Homo sapiens: one gene and its partners. The protein of the gene in region 1 interacts with the protein of each later gene in a pairwise test. Each region holds a gene or a part of one and is shown on either strand. Other genes may lie near its edges.

Region 1 (7,089 bases):
AAAATTAGCTGGGTGTGGTGGCACGTGCCTGTAGTCCCAGCTACTCGTGAGGCTGAGACAGGAGATTTGATTGAACTCGGGAGGCAGAGGTTGCAGTGAGCTGAGATCGTTCCACTGCACTCCAGCCTGGTGACAGAGCAAGACTCCCTCTCAAGAAAGAAAGAAAAAAAAGAGTGCTTTAAAGTCAAAAGTCAAAACCTGTGACTGTGTCTCTACTCCAAAAAGGAAGACCAAAGAAACTGAATTATCATGGCCAGAGGATTATAAAAATTACACATGTATAAATGACATGTCAAGTACACACATTCACTCAGAAACTCATTTTCTAGTAATGGTGGACCCAGAAGAGGCCAAGACAAGGGAAGTCATTCTCCAGTGGAACAGCCTTTGCAATGATTTCTTAAGACAACGTGTTGGCAGATCTATTGATCAGATCATGATGAAAACATTTCATGAGAAGCTGAGGACAAAAGGGTCAACCTGTTCAGTATGAAACTGAGAAACTGATGGTCAAAATGAGAGACCCATAGAAAGAAAGCCCCAATGGGTGGCATTAATTTAGCTGCTTCTGCCCTTCCCCAATGTTAAAACTTGGCTAAACAAGCATTTTCCAGCAAAGAAGACAAATGAACCTCAAATGCCCAAGCAGAGTCTTAGAAAAGAGGAGAAGTGGGAAAATAGGGAGGAGTTAGATAAGAGGCCCAAGTAGATAGCCCTAACTAGGACTAATACAGCCATCCTGCAAGGGCAACTTTGCTCCCAGAGGGTCTGATCAAACAAGCCTGCAGCAGTGATGGGGAATCCTCCAGGGCAGGTGTAAGACTCCTCAGCATGGTTTTAAGAGGAGCACATAGAGAATAAGCAACCAGATAAAGAAATTATTCAAGTCTTTGTTCTCTTTTTTGGAACAACAGGCCCCACTCTTGCCACTTGCAAATTGGCCCAAGGACCACAGGCCAGAGGCTAGCTGAGGAGCTTAAGATGAGATGGAGATTTCTCATCTCCCAGTATCTTTATTCATCAAAATCATGGACCACATGAAGGCTTCTCATCTCCATTACCTTTTCTTTGTACCTTTTTTTTTTTTTTTTTTTGAGACAGGCCTCCCTCCGTCACGCAGACTAGTGCAGTGGCACAGTTCACTGACCTTCTCAGTTCAATCAATCCTCTCACCTCAGCCTCCCAAGTAACTGGGACTAGAGGCCCATGCCAACCACACAAGGTTTTAAAATTTTTTTTGTAGAGATGGGGTCTCGCTATGTTGCCGAGGTTTCATCTCCATTATGTTTGTGTACCAAACTCATAGACCAACAAGAAGACTTTTCATCCCACAATATCTTTGTCCAGCAAACTCAGGGGCCAAGATGGAGGCTTCTGATCCCATTCTCTGTCTACCAAACTCATCCCTTCCAATGCTCAGGTAGGATATGTCTCACCCCAGCCCATCTTTTAAGGATGGTGAGATGGGCTGGTCTCTTCTATTTGGCTGATCAAATCTCTTAGCCTGGGCCAAAAAATGCCCTGCTCAAACCCAACAATGCTCAGCACCAGATTTTTTTGTACGTTGCTGAAATGGCTCTTCCTAGTTTTTGGTCTATCTAGACACCGTTCTTAGGGAGGCAGGAACTCAGCGCCCCTTCTCTTTAGGTCTGGCCCAAGCAAGACATGAGGGCCACCTCATGCACACTCAGTGTCTGGAATGGCAGTGCTATAGATGCACAGACGTCCTGTGCCCAACCCCCTGGGGCCAGGCCACCTTAGCAGGCCCCAGCTTCTGGGTGTGTGACCTTGTCCAGCCCCACACTCCTTTCCCCACACCTCTTTTTGAAACTTACCGCTCCCCTCCCCACCGTTCTTGGTGCAAACATTACAATGGTGGAGACTCACAAACAGCCCAACCCAGTTTCAAAACACATCATACAAACGGAAAAGTTGTTTCAGATTACAAACTTTTAAAGAAGAAAAAAACGGGAGGGGAGAAAAGAAAAGAGTGGGGAACAAGAGAATCGGCCAGGCAACGTCTGCCCTGGTAGGAGGCCCTTGTGCTGAGTTGGTCACAATCCAAGCCCAGACACTCATCCTGCCTGGCTCCACGGGTGACTCCCATTCAACAGTCTGGCTCCCCTACATGAGTACCAGCCCCTGACAACAGGCCTTTCCCAACTGACCCCCTGCCCTCCAGAGCCCCCTGAGACCCGGGCCCTCCCTCGGAACTTGAGGGCGCAGGGGACCAGGACGGCCGTCTCAACGGTCCCAGTTCTTTTTCCCCACTATGGAACACAAGACCCTCTGACCTCCTCCTTCGAGCGAAACTGCACACAGAGCAGGGAAGCCCTGCCGCGCTGGGTTCGGAGGAAAGAGGAGGCCGTGGACGGGGAAGAGGTCGGGTTTCGCTCCCTCAGCGCCGCCGCCTGGGCGACTCTTCCACCCCCGGCTCGGGTTCGAAGCGGCGCGGCCCAGAGAAGAGGAAGAAAGACGAAAAGGAACTTTGCCCGTGGTTTCAGTCAGTAGGCGGGTCAGGCTTCGCAGGGGGGTGGCCGGAGAAACTTGCGACCCTGGCGACCTGGGTCCGCGGGAGCAAGGGCCGGGGCGGCTCTGGGGACTGAGCTCCAGCGCGGGGGCTGCGGCAGCAACTTTCCCGGAGGAAGCCTGCCGCGAACTTTAGCGACGCGGTGCCCCGCCCGCTGCGCGATGCTCCCTGGGCTCCGGCCGGGTCCAGACGCCCGGCGCGTCCGCTCCCGGACCCCTGCTTTCCCGGGACGCCCTGTAGAACCTCGGCCTCGCGCCCCGCGCTCACTTACCATTTGCGCCACTTTCAGCAGGGCCGCGTGGGTGCGGGGGTAGCTGAGGTCCAGCAGCCCCTCCAAGGGGCTCGCGCTGGGCTGGGCCGCGCCGGCCCCGGGTCCGAGCGCGCTGCCGCTGCTGCACGTGGTGCGGACGAGCCCGGCTCCGTGCGACATTGCGCGGCCCCAGCTCGCTGGCCGCCTCCCCGGGCAGCTGCCCAGGGGCCAGATACAGAGGGCGGGCCGGGGGCGGGCGGGGGCGGGCGCTGGCGAGGGCGGGGCGCCCGGGTCCCTGCCCCGCTGCTGGAGACGCGGAGCCGCCTCTGGCGGGATCCCTCCGGTGACTGGCCGGCCGGCGCCTTCCAGAAAGGTAGCGGCAGTCCCGGCCCTCGTAGATGCGCGGAAGTTAGACTGGAGCGAGAGGAAACCGGATGCCTTGGGTCGTGGCCTCTCCGAGGTGGGCAAGGCCCGGACCACAGCTGGTACTGAGCCTCCTGGGATTTTGTGTGGGTGCGGCTGCGGATGTGTGCTGAGAGCACTTTACTGAAGTTTAACTTACATAAAGTGTGATGCCCAGACCTTACGTGTTCAGCTCCACTAATTTTTATATATGTGTACACCTGTGTAACCGTCGCCCAGATCAACAAATAGAACGTGCCCATCACCCCAGAAAGTTCCGTGGTGGGCCTTCCTGACCTACCTTCCTTCCCTGGCCCCATCCTTATCCAGCCTCAGGCAACCACTACAGTGTATTCTGCTTTCTGTCACTGTAGGTTCATTTTGCCTGTTCTTGGACTTCATAAACTTGAAGTAATACAGAATATTCTCCTTCAACATAACAAATTAGAAGATCCATCCTGTTGGGAATATAAGTAGTTCATATCAGTTCCTTCCTTTTTATTGCTGAGTAGTACTCCACTGTGCAAAGATACCGTATTTTTTAAACGTTTACCCAGTTGATGGACACCAAGCTTGCTTCCTTCCTACCTGCTTGCCTGCCTCCTTCCCTCCTTCCGGCCTTTCCCCCCTCCCTCATCTCTTTTCTGGCTATAGTCACTATTATGGTACACGTTTTTTTGGTGGATACAAACTCTCATTTCTCTGGGACAAATATCTGCAAGTGAACGCACTGGTTACAAGGGGAGCATATGTTTGCTTCTGTTAGAAGCTGTCAGCCTGGGGAACATGGCCAGACCTCATTTCTACAAAAAACAAAAAATAAAAATAAATTAGCTGGGCCGGGCGCGGTGGCTCACGCCTGTAATTCCAGCACTTTGGGAGGCCGAGGCGGGCGGATCACGAGGTCAGGAGATCGAGACCATTCTGGCTAACACGGTGAAACCCCGTCTCTACTAAAAATACAAAAAATTAGCTGGGCGTGGTGGCGGGCGCCTGCAGTCACAGCTACTCGGGATGCTGAGAATGGCGTGAACCCGGGAGGCGGAGCTTGCAGTGAGCAGAGCTTGCGCCACTGCATTCGAGCCTGGGCGACAGAGCGAGACTCTGTCTCAAAATAAAAATAAAAATAAAAATAAATAAATAAATAAATTAGCTGGGTGCAGTGGCACATGCCTGTTCAGGAGGCTGAGTCTGGAGGAGCCTTGGAGCCCAGGAGGTTGAGGCTGCAGTGAGCCATGACAGTGGCATTGCACTCCAGCCTGGGCCACAGAGCAAGACCTTGTCTCAATTAAAAAAAAAAAAAAAGACAAGAAAAAGAAAAAGCTGTCAAACAGCTATCCAAGTGACATTCTATTCTGTATCCCTTTTGGGTTGTTTTAAAAATGAAGAGGCCAGGCGTGGTGGCTCACACCTATAATCCCAGCACTTTGGGAAGTCAAGGCATGAAGATCCCTGGAGGCCAGGAGTCCGAGATTGCAGTGAGCTATGATCTTGCCACCGCACTCTTGTCTGGGTGACAGAGTGAGACACTGTCTCTTAAAAAAAGAAAAAGAAAAAGAAAAGGAAAAAAACATAAAAATGAAGACAGGCCCAAACGGGACTACCAAAACGAGGTATGTTATCATGTTCCTTTTGAGCAGTGTCCCTGTGGCCATACTTACATTTATTCATTTGGAGATAACATCAAAAAATCTGGCTGGGCACGGTGGCTCATGTCTGTAATCCCAAAATCAAGCTCACAAGCCCAAGTTTGACACCAGCAAGGGCAACATGGAGAAACCCCATCTCTACAAAAAAATACAAAAATTAACTGGGCATGGTGGCACATGCCTGTAGTCCCAGCTACTCAGGAGGCTGAGGTGGGAGGATTGCTTGAGCCCGGGAGGTTGAAGCTGCAGTGAGTCATGATTACAACACTGTACTCCAGGCTGGGTGACAGAGCAAGACCCTGCCTCAAGAACAAAACAAAGCAAAGTGAAACATAAAACTATCTTTGTGAGTTTATTCCCTGCCAGTGCTGTCTTGTCATCAGAAGAGTTTTCGATGTGGCAAAGTCCTAATAATTCTTGTTGGTGGATGATACCCATGCAATATCTGTTTTGGCAAGTCTCTTAGGTGATTCTGATGCACACTCAAATTTGAGAACCACTGTCATTGCCAGAGTCCACTGCAGTTGAAACATTTGGGGATTTATTACACTATTTATTTCACCTTTATGTACATTTGACAATTTTCATGACCAAGAAAAATTGCCTTCCACGTGTGTCTTCTCTGTAGACAACAGTCACAGCTGCCTGGTACCTCCATTTGTTTCTCTGTAATTCAGGAATAATTGCATCTAGGGGCTGCTGTGACAATGTGATAGATATGCAGGTGTGCTGTGACATTTCTGGCTCTATACCCACAGGCATGAAGTTAGTACTGTGTATCATTTTTTTATGTAGATGTACATTTCACTTCTGTACTTGTCTAAGGCTTCAGGACCCACAGTGGAGATAACAGGGCATCTTTGTTGAGATGAGGGTTTCAGGGAAGCAGAAAAACCAAGTGCTGGATCATTTCTCCTTTGAGGGGCCTTTGTCCAATTCAGCAGTCTTCTAACAGTGATTTTCAGTGTATAGCCCCCCAACCAGCAGTACCTGCGAACTTGTGAGAAATGCAGATTCTAGGGGCCCACTCTGACCTGCTGAATCAGAAACTCTAGGGGTAGGGCTCAGCAGTGTGTGTCTTAACAAGTCTTCCCAACCCCACCCTCACTCCCCACCCCCCTTCACCATCATTCTGTGATTCTGATGCATACTCAAGTTTGAGAACAACTATCTCTTCCTGAGTCTGCTCAGAAACATTGCTGGGCTTTTCTGCCTGGTGTTGACTAATGCACCACCCACCTCTAATCAGAAGTAATCACTGTGCTGGGCACTCTGTGTTAATCACTTTATTATGATCACTTAAGAGCTTGAGCAAGATGCTTGCCAGTGCAAGGGCCATTGCTGGCCTGACTTACAAGAAGAGGCTTCAGAGGCTTGCCAAGTGCACTGAGATGTCTACACTAGTGTGTTGTCTGCTAGATGTGAATAGCTGCCCCTTGGGAAAGCAAGGTCTTAGGCAAAGGGCTTCATAGCCCACTTTAAAGATGTCACACTCTAAGAGGGAACCAACCAGGTAGGTGACCTCTGAATACCTGGTGAGAAATCAAGATGTCCAAGTTCTCCTTTTCTCTACACCGAGGGATTGCAGGTGGCTTATTGACAGTTTAAAGCTTCAATTCGAGTGGTACTCTGACTATAACTCTTCTTCACCAGTGTGTTTATGATGTTATATCTGATCAGATATAATGAAAAAAGTAATAAAATTAGAGTTGACTCTGTATTAGTCACAGTGCTTTTGATGAGACAAACTAAAATCAAGCAAAAAGAAGAGTTCATTCAAGCTGGGAGCAGTGGTGCATGCCTGTAGTCCCAGCTACTCAGGAGACTGGGGTAGGAAGATTTCTTGAGCCCTGAAGTTCCAGGCCAGCCTGGGCAACATAGCAAGACCCTGTCTTTAAAAACAAAACAAAACAAAAAACAAAATAGGCTTGGCACGGTGGCTCATGCCTATAATCCCAATATTTTGGAAGGCCGAGGCAGGAGGATCATTTGAGGCCAGGATTTTGTGACCAGCCTGGGCAGCATAGTGAGACCCCCATCTCTACAAAAAATGAAAAAATTGGCCAGATGTGTAGTCCAAGCAACTTAAGAAGCTGAGCGGGGGGAAGATCACTTGAGCCCAAGAGTTCAATGTTACAGTGAGCCATAATCGTGCCACTACACTCCAGCCTGGGCAACAGAGTGAGACCTTGTCTCAAAAACAAACAAACAAACTAATAAAAAGCAAAACAAAATAATTCATTGGCTTGAGTAACTGT
Region 2 (7,382 bases), on another chromosome or scaffold:
AGACTAATGAGCTCCCAAGGATGTGTGGCTTGAGTTTCCCCTACTTATTTTGGGGCTCCATAGGCAGCACTCCTGTAGTGAACAGGAGTGAACAACTAACACATGTCCAAGAGCTCCTGCTCCTCCTACAGAGCCTCTAGATCAAGCTCATCCAACCCATGGCCCAGGACAGCTTTGGATGCAGCCCAACAGAAATTCATAAACTTTCTTAAAACATTATGAGACTTTTTGTGATTTTTTTTTTTTTAGCTCATCAGCTATCGTTAGCGTTAGTGTATTTTATGTGTGGCCCAAGACAATTCTTCTTCTTCCAATGTGGCCCAGGGAAGCCAGAAAATTGGACACCCCTGCTCCAGAGCCAGGCAGACACCAGGGATGAGAGCTCCTAACGCAGACAGGCAGATGTGGGCTATGGAGAGAGGGTGACATTCTGTGACAATATATACAATCCTTTAACTTTGTAGTTCTATAGAAGGAAGGAAGCAAACACAGATGGATTCACCCAGAACAAGTGCCAGTAATTCCAAATGGTTTTGTTTCGCATTGTTTTTTAATCCTTTTGTTCTCACTCTAAGCAAATGGGAAGTCTTTGTTACCTGATACCCGGAAGGGCAATTTCAATTCCTGGTCTGGAGTACTCTAGGAAAGTGTGAGGTCTAAAGTTATCCAAATAAAATATTTTAATTTATTTTAATTGGTTAAATAATAATTGTAATTTGGGGGCAGAAAGGGCAGAAAAAGACAAATCACAAAATGAAACATCATAATTTTTTAAAAATCAGTGCCCAAGCCAACATTTTGAAACATAACATTTTAACCTCTTTGGCACTAGTTGGGTCATAAGCACTGGAGTTTTTCAAACTGTTGTTAGACTGGCTACAATTTATTGTTTCTCAAAACACAAGACAACAAATACATGTCCTTTGGGGAATATTTATTATTCTAAGGAAGACTTCATCCTGAGGGAGGGGAAAAAAATGTCAACACCAAGTGGTACAGGGCAGAAGAGGGCTGAGAGACAGAGGAGAACTCAACAGCCTCTCTCCCTGACGGCCCCTCCATCATCTACACATTCATTATGGGTTAAAGGACCTGTACACCCACTTTAGGACTTAAAGCAAAGTGCACAGTCCACACTCTCTGGATCACAAGACTATTAGTACATGCCAGATGCTTCTGTGCAACCCTTGTGGCAGTAGAAACACTGCCTATCCTGCTAATCCTTTTATTATTAAGTTTAGCAGTGCTGCTTAGCTCAGAATGAAATTCAAGCTCCCCCAGAAAATTCAATGGGAGCCTACTTTCCTGGGAGATCATGGGGCATCACATTCCTACCTTGACACTTGTCCGGCTGTCAGGTTACAAATTAATTGCAACTGCCCCCAACATGTCACACACTCCCACTAACAAAAATTAAATAAAAATAAAACAGGGAAAGTCCTTTCATTCCTTCATGGTTTGCACAGCCTAGAGGCTGATTCCTACTCTGGGAGATGCTGCCCCACTCACCTCCCACTGACATGGGTGGTGTGCCCTGTATTACACTAAAAAAAAAAAAAAAAAAAAAAAGCTCAGTCCCAGAGCCTCAAGACTCGACTAGGGTAGGTGAGAAAGGAAATCCCAGAGATAAACAGTTAAATAGATTTAGAAGTCAGAAGTTAATTGTGCTGAGCCCTGACACAACCTTTCCTGATTGTGTGCGCACCGAGTGGGGCATCTTTGGGGTCCTGGAAGAGGGGCTCCCACCTGCCTACATATTCACCCACAGCAAATATGCACACGCACGCGCAACCACATGCACACACACACCTTTGCACCTCACACTAGCTCTCCTGACAGCCCAGAGGCACTTACTACCCGAGGACAGGGCTGCCAGCAAAGCTGCCTTCTCCCAAACAACTCGCCTTCTCCTCCAACTTGGGCGACAGTGAATGTCCACCAAGATTCCACGGGGCTCTTTTACCCAGGACCCAGGTTCCTGCAGGGCTCCCCACTTGCTGGCCTCACAATCCCTTTTCCTTTCTCCGAAACACTCAGACTTCACACATTCCTTTCGAGGTAGCTCCAGTCCGGCGCAGCGCGCGCTCCATCCCTCAAGGCTGGCGCCCAGGGCAGCCCGGCCTCTCTCACTCTGGGGAAACTTCGCCACCGCCCCACGCGGAGAACTAAAGACCACCGGCGGAGGGTGAGGGGGACCGACACGGAGCGGAAAGCAGGTTCCGGGACTGAGGGCGTCTCCGGAGCCTGGGCGCGGGAGACAGAAATGAGTGAACCCAGCTGATGCATGCCTTCTCCACGTGGAAGAAGGGAGGAAATACCAGTGGGCGACATGCAGGTGCCCCTCTCAGCCCTCGGAGCTCCCATCTCCTGGCGGAGTAGGGCCCAGAGGGGCCAGAGTCCCTCCGGAGGCAGCTGCCCCGCGCCCCTAGCCCGGGCGCAGTGAGACGCGCGCGCAGGGTGCACGCGAGGGGAAGGAGACTGGGCGCGGATAACGCGTGCCTGGCGCTTGCAGGGCACCATGCCCCTCCATGCCAGGATAAGGCCCCCCACCCTCAGAGGCCTGAGGAATCGAAATCTGGCTTTCTAGCAGTCCCCCAATCCCCTCCGGGAGTGGGTTCCTTGTTCTCGCATGCCCACCGCAAAGGCCCCCCGCCCTGCTCCCGGCGTGTGCCCCGCGCCCTCGCCCGGTTCCACGCGCACCTGGATGTGGCAGGAGATCTCCGAGTCGTCCAGCAGCCGGATGGTGCATCTCATCTCCTGGCTGAGCGATTTGACGCTGGAGCTCCGAAAGTGGATCATTTTCATGGTCCTCCTGCCTCTCGGCACACAGTGGCAGGAGGCGAACATGCACCGCGGCCGTGGGGAGCGAGCGGGAGGCTCAGGGCCGGCGCGGTGCTCGCCTGCGCGGACACACACGCTCGCACGCACTGTCCGGGACACCTGGGCGCGGCTCAGCCCCGGGACATCGGCAGCGTCGGGCGCCTGCGGACACACATGCCCAGCGGCCGGGGCGCGGCGGGCGGGTCCCTCCCTCTGTTCGCTCGCCTCCGCCTCGCCCCCTCCTTTCCCCGCCTCCTTCTGTCGCGCGCGCTCGTGCGCCTCCCTCTGCCCGGGCTCGCTCGCCGAGGACGCCCAGAGCCTGAGACCCCCGGCGGGCTCGCGACGCACTCACTCCCACGCGCGCCGAGCAGCTGAAGGAGGAGGCGGAGGGATGGCTGGCGCGGCTGGCCCGGGTGCCCTGGTGGTGGCCTGCTCAGTCGCAGCCGCCGCTGCGTCAAGCTGGGCCCGACTGCCTTCCTCAGCCTCACCGCCTCCTCCCTCCCCTGGCCGCTGTCGCTCGGGCTCCCGGTTGTGCTCGTCCCGGCCCCGGCTCCCCAACGCGCTCGACAGCGCCCTGCTCTGCTCAGCTCCAGGGACCTGGCGCGGGTAGGGGACGGAGAGCGATCCTGACCCACACCGCCAGGGGGATTCCGCCTCGGGAAAGGATTGCTGGGCCCAGGGCGAGTGACAGAGAGAGTGACAGCCCTGACACGGCTACACCAGGAATATCGCTAATAGTAAAAATCTCTGGTACTCATGGAGATTGTTTAAGCCATTGTTTTATTTAATGCTAGCTAGGACTCAGTCTCTTTCTCCAAAAAAGAGCCTTCCATGTGCAAATCCTCCTTTAAATCTCCCAACATCTTAGTGTGATCTTTGATAGCATACCTTTGACCCGAGCAAGAGGGATAGGTTCCTATCCTACTCCCCTGCTTTACAGACCTCCTCCAGTTCCCGGTTGCTCAGGAATTAAGAGGTCTAATGGCAAAGCGGATGTGCCCCATCCCGTTTTAGTCCAATCTCTGGGTATTGAGGACTCTGGAATTCCCCACGCGCCTCCAGGGTGTTGAAGGTAGGAGGTATCCTGCCTCTCTGTTGTCCCCAAGGTGGCTAGAGCCACTGTGTCAGGTACCGTAGGCCCGAGAGTGGCCAGGAGCAGCTGTTGAGTCAGGGGTATGGAGCTTGAATGTGAGCACTAGAATGTCCAGGAGCTGGGAGAGATGGAAGTCCTCTCACCCTGTTGCTCTTGCCGGAGCAGAACAGGTCATTAGGAAGGAACATTTGTTAGAAGAGGAGGTGTTGACCAGCTGTCAGCTTTTTCAAGGTTTGTGCCTGCATAGAGTCCCCTCATCCAAAGATATGCCCTGTCCTGGGGGTCGAGGAAGAGTGGCACACAAATTTTACCTGCCCTGGACAGTCTGGTGGGCCATATATTCTCTAGGACACCTAGTGGGGTTGGCTAAGGTTTGGGGGAGTCCGCATTGCATTTGGACTTCTCTCTCTGCCTGCTCCTGCCTCCTCTCCCTGTTGATCACTAATAAATACCACACAGGACAAACTCAGTCTCAGTATCTGCTCCTGGAAATTCCAAATTGCAACAATTTGTCAAGATAGGAGGATAGAGAATGTTTTATGTAGCACTCAATAGCTGACTATTGCTTATGAATATTTAGATGATAGTATGGGGCATTCATGTAGGCTCTTGAGCTGGGCCCTTCAAATGTTAGGGCAGATCCTGATGGAGAGGTCAGTATTGAGGGTATGGGAAGATGTGGATTTCATTCTTGGCCCAGCTACTGGCTAATCCTGGGGATCTTTGAAAAGTCTCTCCATTTCTTTTCTCATTTCAAAGGAGAGAACACCTGTTCATCCCACAGGTGGCTGGGAAGCTGGTATGACACCGGGTCAGTGGAGGACATCTTACAGCTGTAATCTGTAAATCCCCATATGCACATATGAGGTGGCAGGGATGGGACCTGCCCCAAGTTGAAAACTGGATCATCTCTGCTAGCCAAAAGAGCAGACAGCCCAGAGATCAAAGAAAAGTCACCAGCCAAACAGTCCATGCTTTTCTTTTAAGACCACACACACACTTGTCCATCCTATTATAGTGACCGTTAGGCTCCAAAAGAGTCATATCAATACCCAAAAATTGTTACCCCAAATTCCAAGGAAGCAAAATAAGACCAACAAGGACAGTAGTGAAAAAGACAGAATAAAGATAACCCAATGTGGGACTGTAAGAAACAGAATTTTGAAGAAATGAGAAGAATCTGAGATTGGTTGTCTGGCCTGATTAGGAATAAAGGCTGAGATTCAACTAGTATGAAAATACAGGCTCTGGAAGCACTTGGCATGACAGCTAGGTAAATTACCAAGTATGGTCACCTGGATTGAACTACCCAATGAAGACAAGGCTCTGGGAAACCAACTGGCCATTGTCAACAATAATAATAATAATATGAAGATTAGGAAGAACTCAAAGAATGAACTCAAGGGATGAGTTTAAAACTGGACCACTGAAAGAAAAGTAGTGATGCACTAAGTCCTAAATTATCAGCTTATGACTTTTAAACAACTGTATTTTTACAAACAACAGAGCTCAAAGAATATCTTGTTAATTGAGCCACAAGGCCAAAACTGAAAAACCAAATTCACAATTTCATCTACAAATCGCCAAATTACAAAGTCAATTGAATTATCGGCCTCACAAGATTTTATAATTATCAGCAGGAAAGAGTGGGAATCTGGGAATAAGAATAGGACTATAAAAGAAAACTTGAATGATTCCTAGTCACTCAAGCCCCCAAACTCCCTTGGCAGCAGAAGCATGCCCTCTTCCTTATGTAACGAGGCTGTTCCTGCTTTGTTTGAAGATCCTCTTCGGAACTCACTTAAGGCAGTTACCTTGGAAAGGGAAGCCGATCTCCTCCCACCCCTCTCCCACCATCTCTGACTACTCTCACTCTTAATACTTGAACCAGATTCAGTCACACCCTAGGAGACCAACTATAAAGTCAACCCCAAGAAGAGAAAGAATTGCAAGATTCTGCTAATTTACATTGAAGAGTATATGTGTGAATAAACCTGAATCTGTCCATTTGAATTCACTTCCCAATGACTCTGGTTTCAATGTACTATCTAAATTGACTAACTGACTTCTGGACTCAGCTAAATGAAGATGAGAAAAAGGAAATTCCCTGGTACATGTACAGGAAAAGATCCAAAGAATCAAGGAGATGGAAATATTGCAGTGTATTTCCACATGTGGCCAGCTTACCTCTCTTTAACTGTGTCCCCTGAGGGGGCATCCACCAAGATTTTCAAAGAATCATTGGCAAAGGAAGGACTGCCATCTTTGAAAAGCACCAAAGTGGCTGTTCTTTGTAGCAAGAGATGGTTGTGAAAGACACTGCAGTCAAAAGGAGCTCCCTGACTTAAATGGGAAGGATGAGAGCCTGGGCTGGCAGAAGACAAATAGTGGTGCATGACTTAACCCTCAGTGCCAGGGAGGGCTTGGTACAATCATAAGCAGTGGTACCCAAGTAGACTTCAGAATGGTGTGACTCATAGGGATTTTGCTGGTGGCCAAGCATCCAACTAGGACTCAATTTGATCTATAGGACAAACAAGATTTCTACACCAGGTGAACAAAGGCCAGGCTAAAATCCCCCTACAAATATTCCCAAATCTGAACCTGTCCCCCAAAGACAACCAGAAACATTTTTTTATTTTTTATTATTATTATTATTTTTTACCGATTGGGTCCCACTATGTTGCTCAGGCTGGTCTCGAACTTCTGGCCCCAGTCAATCCTCCTGCTTGAGCCTCCCAAGTAGCTGGGATGACAGGCAACAAACAGAGGACATTTGAGTACAGGAAAGGTGGCTCCACTTGAGGCATTAGAATGTCAGCCATAGCAGTGGCTGCAAGTCCAGTTCTTACTAAAGAAGTGGCAATGGGTGAGATTAATTAGTGTCTCACGCTCAGTGATAGTAACTGATATTCTTTACCAAAAAATATGCCTAACCAATGGGTTATAACACTTTGGTAAGCCACAAATAGATAACAGGTGGCCTGCCCACAAAAGATTGATGGTTGTAAATATTGCATCTTGAATTTTTTCATTTTAAGCACTTTTACAGCCATTAAAATTGATAACTTAAAAAGAAATATTTAGGTATAAATCTAACAAAATATGCACAAGATCTTTATGAGGAAAACTACAAGACTCTGGTGAAAGAAATCAAAGAACTAAATAAATGGAGAGCTATTCCATGTTCATGGATAGGAAGACTCAATACTGTTAAGATTTCAGGTCTTCCCAAATTGATCTATAGGTTAAGTGCAACCCAAGTCAAAACCTGAGCTAGTTACTTTGTGGATATCAGCAAACTTTTTTTAAAGTTTATATGGAAAGGCAAAAACCCAGAGTAGCTAACACAATACTGAAGAAAAACAAACTCAGATGACTGATATTACCTGACTTTAAGACTTAATATAAAACCAAAGTGATCAAGGCAGTATGGTACTGGCAAAAGAATAAACAAATTGATCAGTGG
Region 3 (7,668 bases), on another chromosome or scaffold:
TATGAGACTCCAGAAAGAACAGTATAAAGAAATTCACAGAGGGCCCCAATCGACTGTGTCTCCTACCATACACCACAAATTGCCAGCTCTGGCTGCTTCTTTCCAGGAAAGATTTGGAATACCCACTCCAGCTGCCGTGCCTCTCAATTCCCATCCAAGCCTGGGAAGTCAGACTGAACTTTAGATAGATCACCAGGCAATTCTTGGTGTCCACGGCCCAGACTTTCTATAAAAGCATCCCTCAAACAGAGCAAACTCCAATTTCCTTCTCTCTCTACAAGGCAGACATAAAATTCCCAAGCCCGGAGGCATCCCCTTGGGCAGTTCTCCAGGTCTCTCCCCTGATAGAGCCGTGCTAAGACGCAGCCTCCAGCTTACAGGTAGAAGAAAGAAAGCCTGCATTGACTAAGTCCCTACTGTGTGCCTGGCTCTTTCTTATTCATTATCTGATTAAAGTCTCTTGGAGACCCTGTGAGATGGACATGATAAGCTCCATTTTCCAGATGTGGAAATACATCAGAGAAGTTTGCGCATTCCCACAGACAGAGCTAGTGAGGGACAGGTAACTATCAATTATTTGTGGGCTACTAGGCGTAAGCTCTTCTGTGTCCCTCCCATTCTCCCTTGTTTACTAGCACCAGCGTGCAAGGCAAGGCAAAGGTAAGTAACTACCATTTACTGAGCCCTGCGCTCCAGCATTCATACACTCTCACGTCACCAACAACTTAACTCCTTTGAGAGCAATATGCCCACTTTAGAACTGAGAAGAGGTATCCAGAGCAGTTAAGTAACTTGCCCAAGTTACACCGCCGGCAAGTGACAGAGCCAAGGTCCATCAGGGTTTGCCTGATCCCAGACTCAGTGAGTGTGGAGACTGCCTCTCCCTTCTGCTGTCCTCTGGCATCCGAGCCGAGTAGGGAGCGCAGAGGAAGCCCGTGCTGCAGACTGGGCAATTGCACTTACTCCCAGAGGGCAGCTGGGTCCCCCAGGGTGAGCGAGTGAAGCCGTGGGGAAGAGTCTATATTTTTCTAACAGGCCAGGAGGGCCTAGATTTCCCTACTTTCCGCTGAGCATCTTTTCTCCAGAACTACTTCCAGAATCCTCTAGATTGGAAATGTTGACCCCCAACATTCACCCTCTAGTGGAGCACTAATGGAGGGCAGACTCCCCTGTCCTCTGGGTTATCAGTTTGCGGGGAGGGGCCGTTGGGGAACCCTTAATGATCTCTCCAGCCTCTCTTCCCTTTCCCGGCGACCTTCTCTTGCGGGCTCCAGACCTCGGCTCTCTGGAGTCCTGGGGTGTCACCCGCTCTCAGCTCCGCCCGCTTCTCCGGTTTCCCTGGCCATAAAACCCTCGCCTCAAGCTCTAAAGCGTTTCCCTGATGTTCCGATTCAGGTGGAAAACTTTTTTTCAAGGTGTAAATTTTCTCTGCTGGGGTCGTGATTTATTCCGCTCTGAAGTCAGCGGAAATTTGACCCGTGTTTTCCGAAGTGAGAATAGGGGGCGGGGAAGCCCCTTCGACCCTTGTTTCTAAATCTCCACCTCGAAGACCTGGGCATTTCTGAAAGGCGTGACAATAGGGGGTGGGCCGGAGAGGGTAATTCGATGCAGAGAATTGAAAGGAAGTCTGCAGAACGGGGCCGTGGCTTAGAAACGCTATCATTAAGACAGAAAAAAAAAGTGACTGGGGTTTCTTAGCCCTGAAGGGCTGCAAATGAGCGCGCGACAAGAGTCGCGATTCCCTGCATTCGGCACTTCCCGAAGCTCCCGAAGTGACAAGGGCGAGCAATGGGACACCCTCGGCCCCTCCACCAAAACCCAAGTCTACCCTGGCTTTACCCGCACTACCCTTCTCCCGGGAGCTCCAGCTGTCTTCCCCCCGGCTACCAGGCACAAGCCCCGCGCTCCTCACTGTCCCTGGCAAACTTTCCCTGCGGGCCGACCCGCAGAGACCGCAAGTGGCGGGAAGCGGGACTGCAAATGAATAGAGGACCATGATCTGAAACGCGACCACCCACTCATCCCTTGATTCCCCCACCCGGCCGCGTCCCCCTGGCGCACAGACCCAGGAAGGCGCATAGACCTGCCTGGGTCTGTGCATCCTCCCGCGCACACATGCAGCCGCCGCCGTTAGGCGGGCGGGGATATGTCCCCGAGGGCCCCGCACTTACGCGCAGTGATGCCTGGGTGCTCCAGTTCGCGGCGGTCGTTGGTGCAGCCGCCCTGCTCCAGCCTGGCGTCGGCCGCGGCGCAACAGTAGCGGAGCGCGCAGGAGCCGCAGCAGATGGTAGCGTCCAGCGTGTCGAAGTCCTCTGGGCACTGGAAGCCCTCGTGGTAGTTGCCCTGCACGTCCACCCAGCCGTGGCAGTACTCTCCGGACTGCTGGGCGCCCGCCGGGCCCCAGCGCAGCCAGCCAAGGAGAAGGCAAAGCGCCAGCAGTGCCCTCATCGCCACTGGGCTCCCTGGGCGGCCGGGAGCAGGACGCAGCTGGAAAGCGAAGGGCTGAGCCCGGGCTCAGGGCGCACAGCGATTCCGCCTCCCCAGGGACACGTCGCAAGCTGCTGGCCCCGGCGGCCGAAGCCAGTCCTGCGTGGGATAGCAGGGGCCGGGGAGGCGACAGGGGCTGCACTACGAGTTCCGCAGGCCGGGAGTCAGCATGGTGCGCGGGGCGAGTTGGCGAGGGCCTGCGGGAGGCGCCGGCAGAGGCAGTTGCTGGGGCTGTCGCTGCCGCCCTTCGCCCGGCTCATAGCGCTCCCCGCGCGAGGGGCGCGCCAACCCCCCGGCCACCTCCCTCCCCACTCCTCAAGGGAGCCATAGCGCCCGGGGCTGCCAACTCCAGCGCCGCACAGAGTCCCAACCTGTGGCGATCGCCGGGTCCCGAGAGGAGCCGGAGGAAAAGAATTTGTTCCCCACGTGCGAGTACCCCAGACAGGCGGCCGCTCAGCCCCAGCCCCTATCTGTCACAGGAGCAGGAGTCAGCTCCGCCGCGGCCAAGTACAAACGGCCGCGGGGTTGCTGACAGCTCTGCCCGCAAGGCGTCTTTTAAAAAGGAAGAGGGAGGAGGAGACAATGAGGGTTAAGAAAGAGTCCGCCCTCCCGGATCGCGCCTCTGGAGCTAATCACAGCGGGTGCGGCGCGGGCCGAGGGTCCTCTGCGCTTTCTGGTTCGCGCTCCATCCTCCGCCTCCCCCCGGCCACCCCCGCCCATGCCGCTCCCCCAGGACTTGACTCTCAACCTGAAGATATCAGACCCTCCCCTCCCCCGCCGCACACCCCAACTCTCTCACAGCCCGGAAATCTCTGCAGAGTGACGTTGAGGGCTGCCGAATTCCCGCGTTTATCCACGCACGTGGGCGCGCGAGTGGAGACGCTGGATTTACTTTTCAATGGATATAATGCATGAATGCGGTGCAGTCATTGAAGTTTGTCGAATCATCTGTGCCCTGTTGCACAGACTCAGACTCGTTCCTGGGATACCGCTTCTAAAGGTTCAGGACCGAGAACATGGTTTTTAGGTGTCGCCAACATGTGCTGAGCTTTCCACCTACGTTTCCACTTTTTCTGGGAGGAACGGCACATTTTCACAAGCACACACACACACACACTCGCACTTTTTCCGCCGGCTGAAGGATTGCCGGTCACCTCTGCCAGCCAAGGCCAGCTCGCAAAACCTCAAAGAGCACGACTTCTCCGTTCACGCCCGCAAAGGAAATAAAGGAGCAAAATTAATGATAATTGAGCAGAACTGAACTTCTGTTCAGGGAAAGAAACACATTTATTTAAATGATGTGTCCCCTGTGGGCTATTTTCAGGGGCACTGCTCCGTTAGCGGCCTAAGTGCCTTATGAAACTGGTGTTATGTGAAACCTGGGCCAAACGCAAGCATTTATTTTGACTGCATCCTGAACTTCCAATCATCGTCTATTGGTATGTGTGAATATGTTCGGTGTATCTCGGCTTATTTGTCAAACAAGCTGCATACCCGTGTCCCTGAGTTAGATGTCGGCAAGTTGAGTGAAACAAAAGGAACAAAGTGTTCTCAGCTCCAGCGACACAAGGTGCGCGGTCAAACGCATTTATCACGTTCGCAGCTTCCTGATGAACCGAGTCGATTCCGGAGAAACTTTTTTAAAAATCTCCTATTAAAACGATTTCTTTTTTTTTTTTTTTTATCTAAGTTAAAGTATATTCCAATTAAATAATTACTTCTGATTTCTAATTTTAGGTATTGGGATTAGCATTTAGTTATGTGGCTGCTGAAAATACATGTCCATTTCACACGTTAAGTGGGACCGTGTAAATATTTAACTTTATTGCTCTCTTAGAGTTACATATTTCTTAGGACAATACGAAGCTATTAAGTAAAAACAAATTAAGTTGGAGCTTTCAATAACAAACAATGAAACAGTTTTTTAGTTAAATAGTTTAAGCATATGGGAAATTGTTTTGCAGAAATTTCTTAGATATTGGGTTTTTTATTTACAAAAAAAAGGTCTTGCCAGACTTAATCTTTTTTTTAACTCTAGTTGTTTTTTAGGAGTGTTGTTTCAATTGTATATATATCCTGAGCAATTACAGGAAAATGTCACTTAGAAACACAGCAAAAATGAGATATAGTGATTATAATCAGATGATAAAAATTATGACATGTTTACTGCTAATAACTTTCCCAGAACCACACCTTTTAATATTAGTTTTTGTTAAAATTTAGAGGAATTTCATTACGTCATAACTGCATAAAGTTCTGCTGCAGCAGCAACCTTTGCTGGTCCCCCAAGGGTCAAGTTTCTCTCATTATCCAGCTGTTCTTTGATAGCATTAATATTTTAAGGAGTGATTTGTTGGCACTTACCTCCCATTAATTACATTCTCCATGCCACAGTGGGATTCTTTTTCCTGGAGACACCAGCTATAATTAATTCCCTCATTCAAAGCTCCTGTCTACTTGACTTATTTAGAGGGCATTTTACCCAAATTTAGTTGGATGATGTTTACTAATGGAAAGTAACCAAACCTCCAAATTACTTGATCCTTCGTAGATCTGACTTGTGTGAACAGTAAACAACTGTGCACCATGCTTCAGATCTAGGTCCTCATCCTAAGCACCTTTAAAACCATTACAACAATCAGCTTCAGGAGTTTGCCTGGGCGAGGGGTTGGGGGGAGGCAGTGATATGTTTGGTTTCTTGTCATAGAAGATCTCTGCAAACTTTCCATTGTCAAATTTTAACTTCAAAACTGATGCCCTGAGAATCCTTTTCACCAACAGAAAGAGAATATTCACCTCTTTTTAGATATATAAACATCCAAAGTTTTTGTTATTCTGTTACTAGTTTAATAGTAAAGGAAGATGAAAAAGTTCTCATAGACACCCCTGAAAGACTCTAGGGGGAAGACATAGAGATAGAAAATAAAGTCCACAATATCTGGGGTATTATGAAGAGGTTTTGGAAATTCTTTATTGTTTCTTATCTCAGTAACACAAATTCCTTATTTTGGTCAAGAACATAATCATAAGAGATCATTTCCCCAGCCTACATACATTCTCTTGTGGCCCTGCCTCAAGGAAACTCTGTAGGAAGTGAGTTAATTGACATGATGTCTGGACTATGCTTTAATAAACACCAGCAAGAAAGAAAGAGAGGAGAGAAAGGCAGAAAGAAAGGGAAAGAAAAGAGGGAGGGTAGGAGGAAAAAGAAAAGATAGGTGAGCAATAGGGATGAGAAGATGGGCTAGGCAGAACTGAAACACAACTGGCAACATGTAGATAACTGTAGCTGGCTGAAGGGAACTTATAAAATCGAAATGCAACTCTTTTTTTCTTTTCTTTTCCTTTTGTTTGAGACGGAGTCTCACTCTGTTGCCCAGGCTGGAGTGCAATGGCATGATCTCGGCTCACTGCAACCCCCATTTCCTGGGTTCAAGCAATTCTCCTGCCTCAGCCTCCCAAGTAACTGGGACTACAGGCACCCACCACCATGCCCGGCTAATTTTTGTATTTTTAGTAGAGATGGGGTTTCACCATGTTGGCCAGGCTGGTCTCGAACTTCTGACCTCAGGTGATCCGCCCACCTCAGCTTCCCAAAGTGCTGGGATTACAGGCGTGAGCCACTGCGCCCAGCCGATGCATTTAATATTCTTAGGACATATTTGCTGACCATATTTTTAAACTTTGTTCTGGCCAGACATGGTGGCTCATGCCTATAATCCCAGCACTTTGGGAGGGCGAGGAGGGAGGATCCCTTGAGCTCAGGAGTTCAAGACCAGCCTGGGCAACATGGTGAGACCCTATCTCTACTAATAAAAATATAATTAGCTGGGCATGGCGGCACATGTCTGTAGGCCCAGCTACTGGGGTAGCTGAGGTGGCAGGATCACTTGAACCCAAGAGGTGGAAGCTGCAGTGTGCAGCGGTGGCACCACTGCGCTCCAGCTTGGGTGAACAGTGATGCCGTGTCTCAAAAAAAATAAAAAAGAAAAAAATTGTTCTGTTGACTTATCTTTTTTATATTCTTTGGAGCTGAGTGAATGATTTGAGAAAACCAAAAGCAGGGAGGTGAAGGGCCACATGGATCAGAAAGGTTTGGGAACTAAAATATACTGAGGAAAAAGGAGGAAGGCTAAAGGAATGCAGAAAACAAAAACAAAAACAAAAAAGGGCAGTTCACTGGACTATGGAAGAGTCTACTCCAGCTCATTTGCATTGGCCTCAGAAACAAAATGAAAAACAAGAGTTCCTCAACCCTCCCTCAAGTTTGCTTGTGCAATGACTTGTTTTCACTCTCCTTTAATTCAGAAAAAAACACTTTAATTTAATTTTCCTTTAATTACCTTGCCCATGACTTCATGGAATTCTCTTCCTTGGATCGCTTGTTGTAAATCTCTTACTCCAGGCCCCTCTCAATCTGAGTTACTCGAAAGGTGTTTTCTCTGAAATTTGCTGTGGCACATGTTTACCCTAGAGAATAGCAAGGTGCCTAGAAGGACACTCTCAGACCTGGGCAACCCAGCCCCAGGCCAGGCCCCTCTTCCTGCCCTGTGTTTCGGGCAGCCTCAGTCTCTTCATTTACCAAAAGAGGGGCTTAAGCTAGGGCCCTTAGAGAGTGTTTCTCAAAAGGCCATGAAATACCTGGGAATCTTGTTAAAATGCAGATCTGGCCGGGCACAGTGGCTCTCACGTCTGTAATCCCAGCACTTTGGGAGGCCGAAGCGGGCGGATCGCCTGAGGTCAAGAGTTTGAGACCAGCCTGGCCAACATGGTGAAACCTCATCTCTACTAAAAATACAAAAATTGACCGGGCGTGGTGGCGTGCACCTGTAACCCCAGCTACTCAGGAGGCTGAGGAAGGAGAATTGCTTGAACCCGGGAGGCAGAAGTTGCAATGAGCTGAGATCACGCCACTGCACTCCAGCTTGGGTGACAGAGCAAGAGTCCATCTCAAAAAAAAAAAAAAAGCAGACCTGACTCTCACAAAGTCTGCAGTGGGGCCTGTGATTCTGCATTTCTAATGAGTTTCCAGGTGATGCCAAGTGGCTGCATTGAGGACCATACTCTGAGGCCCTCTGGCCTTCCTCTGCCCTGTCTGCAGCCACAGGGGAAAGAGTGAATAGAGCCAGAGGGCAGTGCCCACCCAAAGCCCATTCCCTCCCTTTTTGTACCACTCTCTGG

Evidence for each region. Proteins that work in one complex are often made in the same cells at the same time.
Region 2: the proteins of CMTM7 (region 1) and FRMD3 interact in binary tests that used the Homo sapiens proteins (3 or more experiments, as listed by UniProt).
Region 3: the proteins of CMTM7 (region 1) and SHISA3 interact in binary tests that used the Homo sapiens proteins (3 or more experiments, as listed by UniProt).

The regions. Positions count from the first base shown.
Region 1 is NC_000003.12:32,387,778-32,394,866, reverse strand, and holds the start of CMTM7 (CKLF-like MARVEL transmembrane domain-containing protein 7), read right to left. Parts: upstream 3,015-7,089; 5' UTR 2,961-3,014; coding exon 2,802-2,960; intron 1-2,801.
Region 2 is NC_000009.12:83,535,385-83,542,766, forward strand, and holds the start of FRMD3 (FERM domain-containing protein 3), read right to left. Parts: upstream 3,018-7,382; 5' UTR 2,848-3,017; coding exon 2,701-2,847; intron 1-2,700. UniProt on the Homo sapiens protein: Putative tumor suppressor gene that may be implicated in the origin and progression of lung cancer.
Region 3 is NC_000004.12:42,392,837-42,400,504, reverse strand, and holds the start of SHISA3 (protein shisa-3 homolog precursor), read right to left. Parts: upstream 3,018-7,668; 5' UTR 2,449-3,017; coding exon 2,172-2,448; intron 1-2,171. UniProt on the Homo sapiens protein: Plays an essential role in the maturation of presomitic mesoderm cells by individual attenuation of both FGF and WNT signaling.